2 separate regions of the Homo sapiens genome follow, and region 1 is linked to region 2. A link means that fine-mapping ties the variant in region 2 to the expression of a gene that starts in the linked region. Tissue or cell type: lung. Region 2 holds a variant in brackets; the other region holds the start of a gene. All regions are shown on one strand. Distances are from middle to middle.

Region 1 (8,107 bases), 310 kb before region 2:
GTGAGACTTATTCACTACCACAAGAATAGTATGGGGGAAACTGTCCCTATGATTGAATTCTCTCCACCTGGCCCTGCCCTTGACACATGGGGATTACTTACTACAATTCAAGGTGAGATTTGTGTGGGGACACAGCCAAACCACATCAGCAAGTTAGGAATAGAAATTGATAATAAATATACAAGTGTGGGAGGAGGGATAGCATTGGGAGATATACCTCATGCCAGATGACGTGTTAGTGGGTGCAGCGCACCAGCATGGCACATGTATACATATGTAACTAACCTGCACATTGTGCACATGTACCCTAAAACTTAAAGAATAATAATAAAGAAAGAAAAAATAAATAAATAAATAAATATACAAGTGTGAGTAGAAAGTTAAAGGTAATACAGAAGATTAAGAAAAATAAATGGAGAGATGGTTTTGGTGAAGGTTAAAATTGAGAACTAAATTAAAGATGAACCCCATGCCACCAATTTCTGCTCCTTAGGTTTGTTTTAGATGTCAAGGACTGTGTTAAGAGAGACAAGAGTCAAATAGGCACTGAGTAGGCTTTGAGAATATTTTGTACATAACAAAGGAGAAATGTGAGAGCATTAAGATACTAAAATGTGAGAAGGATATTGAACTAAGAACCATTCTGACCCTGCCTAGGCTTTCATTAGTGCAGTGTTTAGAGACTAGGCAGGTGGGCAAATTCAAATATTATGGGTATGATACATTAAGAATCCATAGGCCAGGCACGGTGGTTCACGCCTGTAATCCCAGCACTTTGGGAGGCCGAGGCAGGCGGATCACCTGAGGTCAGAAGTTCAAGACCAGCCTGGCCAACATAGCGAAACCCCGACTCTACTAAAAAATACAAAAATTAGCTAAGCGTGGTGACGGGCACCTGTAATCCCAGCTATTCGGGAGGCTAAGACAGGAGAATTACTTGATCCTGGGAGGCAGAAGTTGCAGTGAGCCGAGATGGCGCCACTGCATTCCAGCCTGGGCAACAGAGACTCTGTCTCAAAATAAATAAATAAATAAATAAATAAATAAATAAATAAATAAATAAATAAAAATACAGGGCCAGCACTAGTATCCAATATCATGATCTCTAGTGTCATCATGAAGAAAACCCCATCTTCCACAAGCTGGACTCCAACTGCCTATTCTAGTATTTGAACACTTTCTGTGAATTGCGCTCTACACAAGCAAAATATAAGATTTTCCCTTCATATCAATGTCTTCCACTTAAATAGTCCGCTATTGCCATCCATCTTGGGCTGCTCTTCCTTGGATAAGCACAGGTATCATCACTCTTTTTGTGATAATGTTTATACAACAGATCTCTTAGAGTACCACCCGCAGCTTTCTTCTTAAGCACAGTGGAGTACAGAAGTGCATCTTAATCAGCCAAGTACACTGGTGCCCTTCTCCTTGTGACTAAGCACCTCAACATCCTTAACATCATGCACCTCTAATTTTCTCTTCCGTCTCCACTATTCCTAGGACATTCAATTAGTGGTTTTGAAATTCTAAAACAATCATGTGGGTGCTTACACAAATGGCACTGAACAGCACCATGGAGAATGTACTCAATAGCAGTTTTCTGAAGATGTAAACATGCTTTGTATACATGCAGTTTCTCAGGCCCATCTCAAAAAAACAAAAAAACTTTTTTAAAACAAAAGGCATAATGTTAAAATACAAATCATTGATAACATGGTTTTGGGGACAAGATAGGTTGACTATATTTTTAATTATCCCTATCCAAGAATGTTGCATTCTGATCATCTAACTCATTTCAACAGAACACACTATCTTGAAGAATGAATGTATTCTTCAAATATCAACTATGTTAGCTTTGTTTTTGTCAAGAATTAGAAAGCAATAAGGTTAAATTTTCAGTCAAGCCTATACTTAACACAAATCGATTGCACATTTCAAAATAGCTAGAATAATTTGAATGTTCCTAGTGTAAATAGAAGATAAATATTTAAGGGGATGGATATCCCAATTACCCTGATTTGATTTTATGAATTTATCGAATTATCACGTTATCCAAAAACATGTTCATCTAATATGTATCAATAAAAAATAAATTTAAAAATAAAAAATTCACAATATTCTTCGTGGCTAACTGAAGAATGACCAATTTATTTTGAATAGAAAACATGCAGACAGAAAAACTATCATGAAAATTTAAACATGTGAACAGAGGGTAGGAATTTTAAAACGGTAATTTTTCTTAGAACTTTAAAGTTCAAGAAAAATACCTTAAAACCAACATAAAGAATAGCAGGCACTGTACTAAGCAGTTCACCCACAGTATCATGTTTTAATCTCACCACAGCCATAAGGCGGTAATAGCATGCATAGATATCATTCCAATTTTTCCTGTTGCAAGTAACAGAAAACCAGACCCCATCTGGCTGAAGCCAGTAAGAGAAAAGACTAACAGGAGGGCCAGCCTCAGGACTCAAATACGTCACCAGGACATGGGTTGCGTCCCAGTCTCAGCTCTGCCAGTTCCTGTAGAACCCTCCTTCCAAGGTTCACAGGGTGGCTACCATAGCTTCAGGCCCTCACCTCATGATAAGACAGCAATACAACTGCCATTTCATGTCTGTTGCTGTTTCTACATTCAGTTAGAATTAAATAAATTTTCCAGTAGCACCCACAAAAATACTGAGTCCACCTGGTTGGCCTACCTAGATATATCGCCAGCCCTGATCAAGTCACTGGTCACGGGCCTGGATTTTCTGGTTCGCTTAGGCTAATCATACGTCCCATCCCAGGACTGAAGAAGTACCAGGGCTGTTGCTGGAGAGTGGCTAATGTCCCCTTTACAAATAAGGAGCTCATGGTTTAGGAAGATGAGCTTGCCAAAAATCACACACTTGTAAAATAAGTCAAAATTTGAACTTAAGTCTACTTATCTGAGCCCAAAGTCTTACAACCATTTATGGCTGTTATCCTAACACCTACGTCGCGGAACGGAAGAGTCCTAAGACTGCAAAGACCCTTCCTTTTCTTCTAGATCCAGTCTAAGTTGGTTGGTAATTTCTTTAGACCCTGCTTTCAGGGAAGTTTAAAAAAAATTACTTGCATTTGTATATTTTCCTTGTATTTTCGGCCAAATTTCTTCTAATTAAAGTACAACATAAGTTGAACCAACACAATAATTGTCATATTAAGAAAAGATAAAACAAACTTTACTCATTTCTGCTTCTGGGCATGGAGTGTGAGGGACCAGACTTAAGTTCTCAAACAACTACAAAATCAGACCAAAAAATACAATGGTTTCCAGGCACCGGACGACAGGCAGTGCAGGGCTGTGATCCTTAAGAGAAGGGAAGCAGCGAGCCAGAGTATCCAGGCCACAACCCAAATGGAGGCCAAGAGAGGAACAGCAGAGGATACAGAGGGAGGGTTCCAGGGGCCAAGACGCAATCCGAGGGGAAGCCCTTCCGGGGAGAGCTGGAGTCCTGGGGTGGCCTTCTCGAGTCTTCCCGAGCAGGTCTGTGCAGCGAGGAAACATCCGAGGCTGGAGTGAGCCACGCGGAGGAGGAAGAACAGCCCGAGCTCACAGGGGCGGGGAAGAGTTCTAGCTCGCGACAGCCCCTGGGAGGAACCCTGCACTATTTGTGGCGTCGAGTAAAGCACCGGAAGGCTCTGCTCAGGAGCGTGAACGACACCGCCCGCTGCAAGCCTGGAAAGGAACGCGTTGCCTCAATTCACTCCGATGTGTCACACACGCGGCTCAGTCACCTAGGGAGCAGGAAAAGGCCAGCGGGCCACGCAGGGCTCACCCGGGCCTGCATCCAAACGCAAACGGCCAGGCCCACGAAGCAGGAAACACAACCCGCAACGAGAAGCAAAGGGATCCACAGAGAAGGGCCAGGAGTCACGGACGACGCCAGGCAGTCGGCGCCTGCGCTTCCGCGAGCCAAGACGCCTGAGCGGCGCGGGGGGATCGGGGGATCCCCCAGAAAACTGCCCTCGACTAACAGCGCAGCGAAGGGGCGGTGCGCTCGAGACCCTGGAACGGGAACGACCACAGCCACCGCAGGGAAACAACCGGGGCCCAGGCCCAGGTGGGCGGGCGGCTGAGGAGCGTGGCTGCGCCCACAAAGCCGCCGGGGGCTGCGGACTACAGCGAAGCCGGCGCGGGGCTCGGCCCTCACTACACGAGGCCTGGGCGCCTGCACGCCCCCGTGCTTCAGCCCGCGGCTCCCGAACACCCCCGCCAGGCGATCCCCAAAAACGCCCGCTGCGCGAGCCTCGACGGGAACGCACCTGCGTCTAGACGCTGACGCCGTGCGCGGGGCGGGGGCCGGCGAGCATGCGCAGTGTGGTGTGGACAGGGCGTGGTTGGCAAGCATGCGCAATGTGGGCCGGGCGGGGCTGGCGAGCATGCGCAGTATGGGGCGGGGCGGGGCAGGGCTGGTGAGCAAGCCCGCGGGGAGCGAGCGCGGAGGCGGGCGTTGCTACGGCAACGGTGGGCGGCCAGGGAGTTGCCTGAGGGAAAAGGGGCAGACGTCCCTGGGTTCCGGTGTTCGCGGAGGAGTCGAGGCACGGAGAGGCTTCGGGGGAGGGACGGAAAGAAGGGTGGCCCGCCAGGCGGGCGGGGTCCATGGATTCGGGGTGAGGGCCGTCCGCGGCCTCGCTTTCGCCTCCTCCGAGCCGGGCCGGCGATGGCCGCAGCTGTGAGGCGAGGTCGGGTCCCGTAGCGGCGCGCAGCCTCCTTGGGGGACTCGGGGTCCTGGTTAGTTTCCACAGCTCCTTCTATCTGAGGGGTACGAATTTACGGCTGCCTAAAGCCTTAGAACAGTGATCCCACGTCGGTAATTTTAGAACCCGGTAGGACCGGCTGCCATCAGGGGCCCCAGGTGCAGGGTGGTGTCAGCTTTGAGAGGAATTGGAGCCTCGTCACCGCGCGCTTCCTGCATGAGTGGAACCTCAGAAAACGGTCAGCGGGGTTCAGAAGGCAGGAGATAACACCAAGACCCTACGTAGGATTGCATCTTTACGTCGTAGGCTTGGTCTCGTGTATTTTTATTGAGCGTGTTTAATTAGCTGAGGTTACTCGCTTTGGCACCCCAGTGATCGTTTTTGCCACCAAGCTCTGCCTCTTGAGCGTTTAATACTGGGATTTACAAAGCAACGGGTTCCTGTTAATCTTAGCTTTCAATACTGGGCAAGGGTTACGTTTCTAACCCTACCAGTGCCGCAGGCTCATTATATATTGAAGGACTCACCTGGTATTTGGTTTTCTCATTTATAAAGTGGAGTTGGAGTAGGTACTTGAAGGGTTTTCAATACCTTTAAATTCTGAATTTTAAACTCTAAAACTTAATGATACCGTAGGACTTTAAGAGAGTATAGGTTTTAAAAGCTCTTACCTTGATATTAATGACAGTGGTCTACTGTGTAGAAACTTGAGATTAAATTGCAGACTGCAGCTATGACCGGACCATTTTTAGTGTGATGCAAACTGTATCTTCTGCAGGTTATAGGCATTTTGGAAGCAGGAACTGAGAAAATTCTGGCAGTGATCTTTCAGTATTTTAAATTCCACCATTTCTCCAAGTTCAGTTGTCTTGATGAGATACAGGGTGGAACTTATTTCAAACATCTCTTGATGCCAGAATTGAACGGGAACAGAAAAGGGCTGTAGTAAGAACCATCATCAAAGCCTCCAGGACTTGAGCAGCGACTGACGTTTTTACTTCTAACCCTGGATATCTCAGAGATTTGGTTCCACTGTGCTTTTCTATCTCTCCACTCACGCCTTAGTGAGTTTGTTCTTTCGGTTGGAGTAATTTAATACAAGTGTTAGTCCTTAGAAATACATTTTGGATTAATTTCTTTCTATTTTTAGAGTTAGGCCCTCAACACAGTAAGTCTTCACTTAACATCATCCATAGGTTCTTAGAAACTGGAGCTTTAAGCCATGCAGTGTACAAGGAAACCAGTTTCACCATAGGTTAATTGATATAAATAAGAGGAAAGTTCCCACAGCACATTCCTGGTCACAAAAACATCGCCAAACTTCTAAATAAAGACCAAAGCACTTCTAATATGAAACACTGAAGTACATATGAGCTCTACATTTAAGAAATATCATTACCCAATTTCTGGTGAATCCATGAGTGACCGGGTTGTGGAGGGGCTGTGTTAAAGATAATGTTGGCCAAGCCAAAGCTCTGAAGCACCTCCCCCTACCATGCAGTTTCAAAACAAACAGGAGCCACTTCTCAGCCCGCTGGGCCTTTCTTACTGCATCGGGTATTGTCCTGCATCTCTGTGTGAATACCGTATGCTTTACGAGTTTTTATTTGACAATAATTTGTATCCTTTCATTTTCCAACCTGCTTATTCCAGTTCAGGGTGGCAGGGGGCTGAGCCCATCCAGGCAGCTCAGGACCAAGGCGGGCAACAGTCCTGGAGAGGACGGCATCCCATGGCAGGGCACACTCACACTCACTCAGACGGGGACGCCCCAGTGAGCCTCACGTGCACAGCTTTGGGATGTGGGAGGAACCCGGGGTACCTGGAGGAAACCCACAGCACATGGGGAGGACGTGCAAACTCCAAACAGACAGTGGCCCCTGCTGGGGATCAATTTTTTTTCTCATCAGCGTTATAGGGAAACAACATTAGAAGAAATATGTTCAAGGGCCTTCTGTGCCAGTTCCTAGATTACTTGAATAACTTTCTATTTCTCCTCATCACAGTATATTTTGAATACATCTGTCTTCATAAAATACACCATGTCCAAAATCTAAAAGGGCCAATTCCAAATTATTCCACCAGCTTTGAAGGGAATTGAAGCAAGAATAACAAGAGTAAGTTCTGTGTGAAAAGACCTACTTTAGATACTTCAAAGGTTGTCTCATTAATCCTTGCGGCAACCCTGCAAAGCCAGCGTTATTATACCTGCTTTATAGATGAGGAGCCTGGGGCTCAGCTGTGTCCAGTATCTTGCGCAGCAAAGCGGTAGAGTTCAATTGGAACTCAAGTTGGTCTGTCCCCATATTCTGTACTTCTGTGTTCTGGACAGACTGAAGTTAGCCAGTGTTCCTCTTGCGTTCCAGTTTCTTCATTGTTCCCTTTCTCCCCAAAATAAGCATATCATGCTGATTTCCAGCCTGCCAGTTCTTTCCTCCTACCTGTAATGTGCCATCTTCATTTCCCTCTGTGTATCTTTCAAATGCCAGTTTAACTGGTTTTTCCAAGTCTCCAGTGTTAGCCTGAAGTTTTGTAGTACTTATGTATCATGTTATATTTAGCAATGGATTAATTCATAGTAATTAACCATTTGTATTAATGTGTCCTCAGGAGCTCAGGGGTGAACTATTTGAGGACAGGGATGAGTCGAAGCATAACTGACTTGAGTTCACCCCCTTCCTCCAGAACCAGAATGTGTAGCTTAGTGCCACCCTGTAGCAGGCATTCCTGCTGCTTCAGGATCTGTTAGACTCTTACAGAGCATCCTCACAAACTTCATGGTTTTTCTGTGCACTGTAACTTTGACTTTCTGTTGACCACGTCTTTGCAGCAGAAGAATAGAAGGAAGGTGATAGGATGTGATGATAGAATTTGTGATAGCCAAGCAACAACTTTTCCTAATTCGGCATGTTAAAAAATAAGGTACGCTATTCTTTTCTTAAACATACACGTTATTTGACTCATGAAATGTATTTTAATTCAGCCATTTGAGAGTATAAAAACTAGTTTGCAAACCCTGCTTGAACTAGGAATTGTCAGCAGGAATGGGCGATGCCAAGTGTCGCATGGGGCAGTGGACAAGCCAATGGAAAAACAATCTCTGGCGATATTTACTGCAAGCATCTCTTAGCTGTTTGGTGATTTTTATTCTGCACAGGAAATTATTAAGTTTTCACAAAAAGGCATAAGCTGAAATGGCAGGAGTCTCCTTAGTAGTTGCCTGGAGTCTAATTTAATTATAGTGAAGCAGCGTGGGTTTGTTTAGGCATGCACAGGTTTATGGGTCATAATGAATTTATTCATATTATAATTAAGGCTTTCATAATTAAATGAAAAGATATTCCTGTATTGTTAACATAAATGCTGAGACAAGGGTCTGCTC
Region 2 (8,107 bases):
CCCGTCATTACTAAAAATACAAAAAACAGCCGGGCGTGGTGGCAGGCGCCTGTAATCCCAGCTACTTGGGAAGCTGAGGCTTGAACCAGGGAGGCAGAGGTTGCACTGAGCCGAGATCGCGCTACTGCACTCTAGCCTGGGCGAGAGAGCCAGACTCTGTTTCAAAGAAAAAAAAAAGTTCAGAATCTAGGACGTAGCAATCAAGGCATTCATGGGCTGTCATCTTGCATATTTTATCTCAGCGTTCCTTTGCATGTAGCTCATGGTTGGAGGCAGCTGTGTGGAATTGCCTGCATTTCCTTCTCCCCACATCGCACTAGTTCTATGTATGTAAATATTCAGCTTCTATGTATACAAATATTCTTTATTGAACCAGGTTTAAACTACCTAGCAGTGAGGATCGTGCCTTGCAAATGTTTGTGTCCTTAATGATTTGCAAACACCACCACCCCCCTTGATAATTTAGGAAATAGCAGTGAGTTGGTTTTGATTTTTTTTTTTTGAGACTGAGTCTTGCACTGTCGTCTAGGCTGGAGTAGAGTGGTGCAGTCTCCGCCCACTGCAAGCTCCGCCTCCCAGGTTCATGCCATTCTCCTGCCTCATCTCCCAAGTAGCTGGGACTACAGGCGCCCACCACCATGCCCGGCTAATTTTTTGTATTTTCAGTAGAGATGGGGTTTCACTGTGTTAGCCAGGATGGTCTTGATCTCCTGACCTCGTGATCCGCCCGCCTCAGCGTCCCAAAGTGCTGGGATTACCGACATGAGCCACCGTGCCCGGCCGGTTTTGATTTTTATCATATAAACTTAGATATTACTTTTAAACAAGTTTGAAATTGTTTTTAGGACACTTTCCCTCCAAAATTAGCGGTTTGTTTAATTTAGGTTCTTGTATGCTACTGTGCCTGCAGTAAGTTAAGGCCGAGCAAAAGCGCAGTAGATAGGGCTCTGTTGGAGTTGAGCAGATACCAGAGGTGCACAGCTGGGTCTGAAGAGCTACACAGGGGAAAACGAGATGGTGAAATGTATTATTAATAGCATTAATGGGAATAGTGACAGGCACAGCCTGGTGAGTGGAATGTTTACCCATATACTAAGCACTCAATAAATCTGATGTATTTAAGCAGCAATGATCAGTAGCAGCTTCCACCAGTTCTTGGAAGTTTAATATTTAAATACACATATGGCAAAGAAAAAACACAGGATTTGGTCAGTGTAAATTTTTTGTAATTTATTTCTCTTTTCAAGCAGAGTCTTTGTGGAAGTGGTGAAAAGTACATCCCACCTCATGTGAGGCAAGCTGAGGAGACAGTGGACTTCAAGAAAAAGGAAGAACTAGAAAGGCTGAAGAAACATGTAAAAGGTCTACTTAACAGGTGACCTTGTAGTGTTGTTACACTGTGTCACTTAGAGAGGTTGTCTGTTTCCTAAAATGTAGGAATTATCCCAGCAATTCAAATAGAAGTGATGGGGACAGTCGATTGGATCCTTTCTGTTCTTGGCTTGATGCACCGAGACCCATGAGACCCATACCTCGAGAAGGAGAGGATACCCGACTGTTGGCTACTTTGAATCCCTTTAGGGTTTGAGAGCAGCCCAAATGCTCACATTGTTATTCTGAGAAGCAGGAAGGAAAGGGGCAGAGGTTCTTTGTCCGTCTAAGGACAGTGTTGGAAGGACTGGCTTATGTCCCCTCTCTGCAGAAACACATTCACCTGGTCTTCCATCCCCCTTACTCATTGCTCATGTCTGCATTTTGTTGTTACCCACTTTAAGAACAGAACATTTAAAAAACTGATTGGAAACCATACAGGTGGGGCTTTGTCAGTTACACGTGCCCATCAGCTCTTTGGTTTTGAGGATGTGTGTGTGCATGTGATTCTGTGTAGGTTTTTTTGTTTTGTTTTGTTTTGTTTTGAGATGGAGTTTTTGCTCTTGCTGCACTGGCTGGAGTGCAATGGCGCTATCTCGGCTCACTGCAACCTCTGCCTCCACCTCCCAGGTTCAAGCAGTTCTCCTGCCTCAGCCTCCTGAGTAGCTGGGATTACAGGCATGCGCCACCACGCCAACTAGTTTTGTATTTTTAGTAGAGACGGGATTTCTCCATGTAGGTCAGGCTGGTCTCAAACTCCCGACCTCAGGTGATCCGCCCGCCTCAGCCTCCGAAAGTGCTGGGATTACAGGCATGAGTCACCGCACCGGGGCAGTTCTGTAGTTTTATCACATGAAGATTCGAGTCACCACCGCTGCAATTGAGATAAAACTCACCACCATCTCTCCCCTGCTGCCCCTCCATGGCCTCACCCACCCCCTTCCCCCTTGTATTGCTTTTTGTTTCCTGTTATCCTGGGAATTTATATAAACCTCTGTTTCAGTGTCGAGTTCAGTATTAGCACAGGTTCACAGTGAGTAACCTTCCACGTACATATGTGTGTAGTGTCCCCACTACCCGTTCAAACAGAGCAGCCTTTTCTAGTGTTAGGAACTAAGGATTTTTGTGCCACCTAAGAAATAAAACGTTAGCATTTTTTCTAACAACACGTCCTAAGGCTGGACCCTGCCTATGGGATATCAGGTCAGAATATTCAGGGGAGTATCCTCACGTATGTTTCTGTAGACTTAATCCAGGGTATGCCTCAGTGTGGCCACATTTCATCTTGTAAAGACAGCAATTACATTGTTTTGGGATTCCAGAATATTATCTGGTTATGAATAATATATGCTGGGTTATTGGGGCAAGATAAGAATAGTTAAGGGGTCAAAAGTGTACATAAAAATAGAATATATTGTTGGTATGGATAACTCTTTAATTTTTTAAAATTGAACTGAAAATTCCTAATTGGAAACATTGTTGCTCTCTGTCTTTACAATTCTCTGCAGGTTGAGTGAACCCAACATGGCTTCCATCAGTGGGCAGCTGGAGGAACTGTACATGGCCCACAGCAGAAAGGACATGAATGACACCCTGACCTCCGCTCTCATGGGTGCCTGCGTCACTGCCTCGGCCATGCCCAGCAGACTGATGATGGAGCATGTTCTCTTAGTCAGCATCCTTCACCACACAGTTGGAATCGAGGTACAGTTGTACCTTTTCTCCAGGCTGTCACTAGTGTCTCATGGTGATTATTTTAATGATAGGCTTGATAAGTGCGTAATTGTGTGCTGTGGGTGGTTCTTGTGTCGATTCCTTTTTGTTGTGAATAAATACTCTATTGTCTATGTCATGTAGTTGTAAAGAGCATTCAGGAAGTACTTGATTACTTGATTTTGCTTAACTTTGCTTTTTTGTTCTGTCCATTCTTTTTTTTTTTTTTTTTTTTGAGACAGGGTCTCGCTCTGTCGTCTAGGCTGGAGTGCAGTGGCACGATCACAGCTGCAGACTCGAGTGATCCTCCCACCTCATCCTCCAGA[G/C]TAGCTGGAACTGCAGGCGCACACCACCAGGCCTGGCTAATTGTTTTGGTGGGAGCAGAAGTGGAGTCTCACTCTGTTGCCCAGGCTGGTGTCAAATTCCTGGGCTCCAGTGATCCTCCTGCTTTGGCGTCCCAATGTGTTGGGATTACAGGCGGGAGCTGCCATGCCCAGCCCTGTTCTGTCCAGCCTAGCATGTCTTTTATGTTAGTTAATTTTCTTCTCGACTGACATCTCAGACGTGCCTTCATTTCCTTTGCACTTCTCCCTTAACACTGATTTATTTCAGATGTTTGGAAGATAATGGTTGGTGTGGTCTCACTACTGAGGTGTTGGTATTGATGGGAGATGTGAGAGCACTGGGGCATGGAACTGCCTGGACATGTTCAGGGAGACCTGGTGCCCTTTCTGTGTCATGGCCCTTTCTCATCAGTGAAGTGGGCTTTTGTTGGGATTGAACTGAACAGTGTACAGAAAGCATCTGGCACCCGACAGGTGCTAAGTAAATGTCCACCCCACCCCCACATCCCTTTCGTATTCTTCTTGCTCCACAACCCTTGTGGTTAAAGTCAGAGAGGCTCTTTGGTGATGGCCTTGGTTCCACAGTCACTGCCCTCTTCTGGGCCTGTTCTCTCTTAATTGAATACAGGAAAGTCATAACACTCCCAGTCAGTATCCCAGTTCCCCCAAGGTAGCTGATTTCAGATGTGTTGAAGTAAATCCGTCCAACTAAAGGAGATTGTTGTGAGGTTGGTGAACGAATGGAGGGTTGGGTCAGTGAGGCTTAGTTTTCCCGTGATACAGTATTTACATGCAAATGCAGTGTTTAACCCATTTGGATCTTTAAATGATAGTCTCTTTTAATGGTGGTTCTCTTAGTTTTTTGCCTTCTGACAGCTCTACTCCAAAAAATAGGCCACAGCAGCACAGCATCCCTAAAAGTCTAATTACCTGGTGTACGTTTATATACTTTCGTCTCCTCCTCACCTTTAATCCTAAAGTGTCCCGGTGAGATCAGGGCAGACCTTTACTGAAGCTTGCTTTGCAGTGCAGCAGGCAAAGCCGCTGAAGCGCTATGTGAAATTCCCAAGATCACGTCTTGTTAAAAGTACACAGAACTTGTTTTCTGGGCTCCTAGGCAAGCATGCTTTCTACTGCAATGCTAGTCACATTCATTTCATTTTTATATTACTTTCTCTCAATTATAATCTTAACAGTTATTTAGAGTCTTACCAAGTGGGGCTCTCCAAAGCTTGCTTTAAGATGCACATATTTGCCGGCCGGGCGCGGTGGCTCACTCGTGTAATCCCAGCACTTTGGGAGGCCGAGGCGGGTGGATCACGAGGTCAGGAGATCGAGACCAGCCTGGCCAAAAAGGTGAAACCCCGTCTCTACTAAAAATACAAAAAAAAATTAGCCAGGCATGGTGGCGGGCGCCTGAAGTCCCAGCTACTCCGGAGACTGAGGCAGGAGAATGGCGTGAACCCAGCAGGCGGAGTTTGCAGTGAGCCGAGATCGCGTCACTGCACTCCAGCCTGGGTGACAGAGCGAGACTCAGTCTCAAAAAAAAAAAAAAGATGCACGGATTTGCCAAAATGAAGTAGCCTTCTTGTCACTGGGGCTTCTGTGCTGAAGGCGGCATGGGGTGGGTGGAGATGCTGCCTGAGTACAAAACATGCTGTAACGCGCACGGTCTGTGTCACTTAGATGAACTTGTGCCTCCGAGTCTTCCTGTGTCCAGTCGTTAAGGTCAACGAGTTAGTTCATGTAATAGGCATAGGAAAGAGCTGGCCCACAATAAGCGCTCATTGAAGGCTCATTATTTATGTACAGAAGGAGATTTTCGTGTTTTAATTCTGTTCTTCCTCTGGCTGGCTTTTCCTACCACTGCTGATTTCTTTGTTGTTGCTAGATAATGTTCTGATCCACATTTTTCCATGTCTAGCAGTAGTTGCATGGTGGCAGCTTTTTGAAAGGCCTGTGGGGCATTAGGAAGCTGAGGGCTGGAGAGAGGGGCACAGGCCTGAGCATCTGAGTGCGGGACTCTTCTGAGCTACATGGGTCATCTCAGATATGAAAATCTGCACCAGCTGCTTTGGGAACCCTCTTGTTATTTTTTATTTCTAAGAGCTGTCCTCATTTTCATGTATGAGCATGTGGGAGTCTGTTTTCTTGTCATTACAAAGTGATGGAATCACTGGGTGCCATTCCTGGGCCCTGTGATTACCATAATCAGGGCCATTCTGTGACTTTCTTGGTACCTCCCTGTCCTCCTAGAGGACACTGGTATGCTTCAGCTGACTTAATCATCAGAATGATCTTAGTATAGGCAGTATCTCAGTGAGTTACAGGAAAAGCCACAGACCGTGACCACCCACAGCACATCAGGAATTTACTTGATTGGAAAACATGAGATAATTGGGCCTACTTTCATTTAAACCTTTGCTAATTGCATGAAGGACAATGAAATGACTTGTTCCGAAGGGAAGTCATTACAGTACTTTAGTTAATGACATCCACAGAAACTTCTGCCAGCGTGTGATGAGCTTTCAGGGTGCTGGCTCCATTCAGCTGCTTTCAGTCCTGTACCGAGAAAAACATTCTGTGTTAAAGACGATGGTGTCAGCTGCTGAATTGCTTCTGTAAGTCCTTTAAAACTCAAAAACCCAATCTATGTAGATTCATGTTAAAATTTCCACATCAGAGTTAACGTACAGGATGTGCTTGAATAACTTTACCAACGTGAATTTTACTTATATTCTTAAATGTTATGCTGTTATATTTTATTTTGAAGACATTAAATGGAACTTCAGATTTAGAATTTTGAGAAATTTTGATGTAATATACATAATTGAAAACATACAGCCGGGTGTGGTGGCTCACGCCTGTAATCCTAGCACTTTGGGAGGCCGAGGCGGGTGGATCATGAGGTCAGGAGATTGAGACCATCCTGGCTAACATGGTGAAACCCCGTTTCTACTAAAAATACAAAAAATTAGCCAGGCATGGTGGCAGGTGCCTATAGTCCCTGCTACTCGGGAGGCTGAGGCAGGAGGATGGCGTGAACCCAGCAGGCGGAGCTTGCAGTGAGCCGAGATCGCACCACTGCACTCCAGCCTGGGCGACAGAGCGAGACTCCGTCTCAAAAAAAAAAAAAAAAAAAAAAAAAAGAAAAAGAAAATATACATGAATATGTTTTATGCCTAAATTTTTATTGACGTCTGCAGAATTCTAATTTACTTTTAAAAATTATATTTGACTATAACATGGTTGCCATAATAGAATGTGTCTTCCAGTTTATCTTCATTGAAGGGGCTTGAATGGAAACTACAGGTTGGCTTGGTTAAGTCTCAGGTCTTTACAAACTGAAGTGTATATCCAGTCCATCAGAGCTGGCCTCCAGGAAGTCACTGTGGCCTCCCGCCAGTCTGTTGCCTTTCTCTGGATTCTTCTAGCGTTGATTTCTTTGCAGTCCAGCAATGATGTCTGTGTACTTCCCCATACACTCAAGACTGTCTGGTGGATCTCAGCCTTGCCTGCGATTTTCACTGACACCCTTAGATCTCCATCCAGTCCTGTCTGGATGGCCCCTGTTGAAGCTTAATAACCCCTGAGCTGGTCTTGTCCAGCCCCACTAGCTTGCTGCCCCTCACGTAGTTCCTGGTTACCCAGACCAGAAACCTGGGAGTCACAGATCCTTCAGCTTTTACAGCCGGTGTCACACACTGCCATGCGTTGCTGTGTTACCCAGGCCCTTCATCCCTGGTCCAGCGCAGCTGCGTTATTTAGGCCATCGTCTCCTGGCTGGGCTGTGGGGGTCACTCTTTGTCACCACCATGTCCCTGCTTCCGCCTTCTCCCTCCAGTCCCAGCTTAAGTTGAGATTTGACGGAAAATGATGACACGGTAGTGTTGCCAGCAAGACTGAAAACGACTGTTTTCTGCCTTCAAGTTTTATTATCTCTCTTTTACACAGTGAAAAAACAGGGTTCCAGGAACTTGCTGAAGACCACACAGACCCACATGCAGGTCTTCTCATCCTTCAGTCCACAGTTACGGAATTCGGGATAAAATGTACCAGAACAGCACAAGGAGAACACTTAGGCCTTGCTTAGCTCCACCAGGCCCGGCAGTTCCTGGCCCCACTTCCGCCCCTCAGGGCAGTGTCTGGTTTACCTGCTGGTCCCCATCAGGGCCCAGTGCCCCTCAAACCACTGGCTGAGCCAAGTGAGTGTATTCACAAGCTACCTTAGTGCCAGAGACTCAGCCCTGGGAAAGTAGGGCGTCTCCTCCGTGCCACCTGGAGCCCTTCCAGAGATTATTAAGTACCTGTCTATTTGGCAACCTCTGATATTCAGAATGTGTTGCGTTTATCTGTTTTAGAAATCACTCGTATTGCTTCCTTGTAAGAAATGAATTTGGGGTAAAAATCTGCAAAAAAATCTTTTAAGAAATGAATATTGTTAGGTAGTGGAACTTTTTTTTTTTTTTTACACAGAGTCTTGCTCTGTCGCCCAGGCTGGAGTACAGTGGCGCAATCTCAGCTCACTGCAACCTCCATCTCCTGGGTTCAAGCGATTCTCTTGCCTCAGCCTCCCAAGCAGCTGGGATTACAGGCATATGCCACCACGCCCGGCTAATTTTTTGTATTTTTAGTAGACACGGGGTTTCACCACGTTAGCCAGGATGGTCTCGATCTCC

The links. PIP is the estimated chance that this variant, and not a neighbour inherited with it, causes the effect.
Region 1: it holds the start of RNF32-DT, and the variant in region 2 is fine-mapped to the expression of RNF32-DT in lung (TOPMed, PIP above 0.99).

Annotation. Positions count from the first base shown.
Region 1 is chr7:156,636,246-156,644,352 of GRCh38, forward strand. It overlaps RNF32-DT (RNF32 divergent transcript), which reads right to left and starts at 4,290. Exons shown (of 4, transcript NR_026865.2): 1 at 2,703-4,290. RNF32 (ring finger protein 32) reads left to right here and starts at 4,529. Exons shown (of 9, transcript NM_030936.4): 1 at 4,529-4,566; 2 at 7,556-7,647. The coding sequence starts at 7,633. RefSeq lists an enhancer at 3,960-4,551 and a silencer at 4,120-4,429.
Region 2 is chr7:156,951,224-156,959,330 of GRCh38, forward strand. It overlaps NOM1 (nucleolar protein with MIF4G domain 1), which reads left to right. Exons shown (of 11, transcript NM_138400.2): 2 at 1,251-1,375; 3 at 2,880-3,075. Among named protein-coding and RNA genes, the nearest start is that of NOM1, 5.6 kb to the left of the region's middle. The variant G/C (reference allele first, on the strand shown) is at 3,411.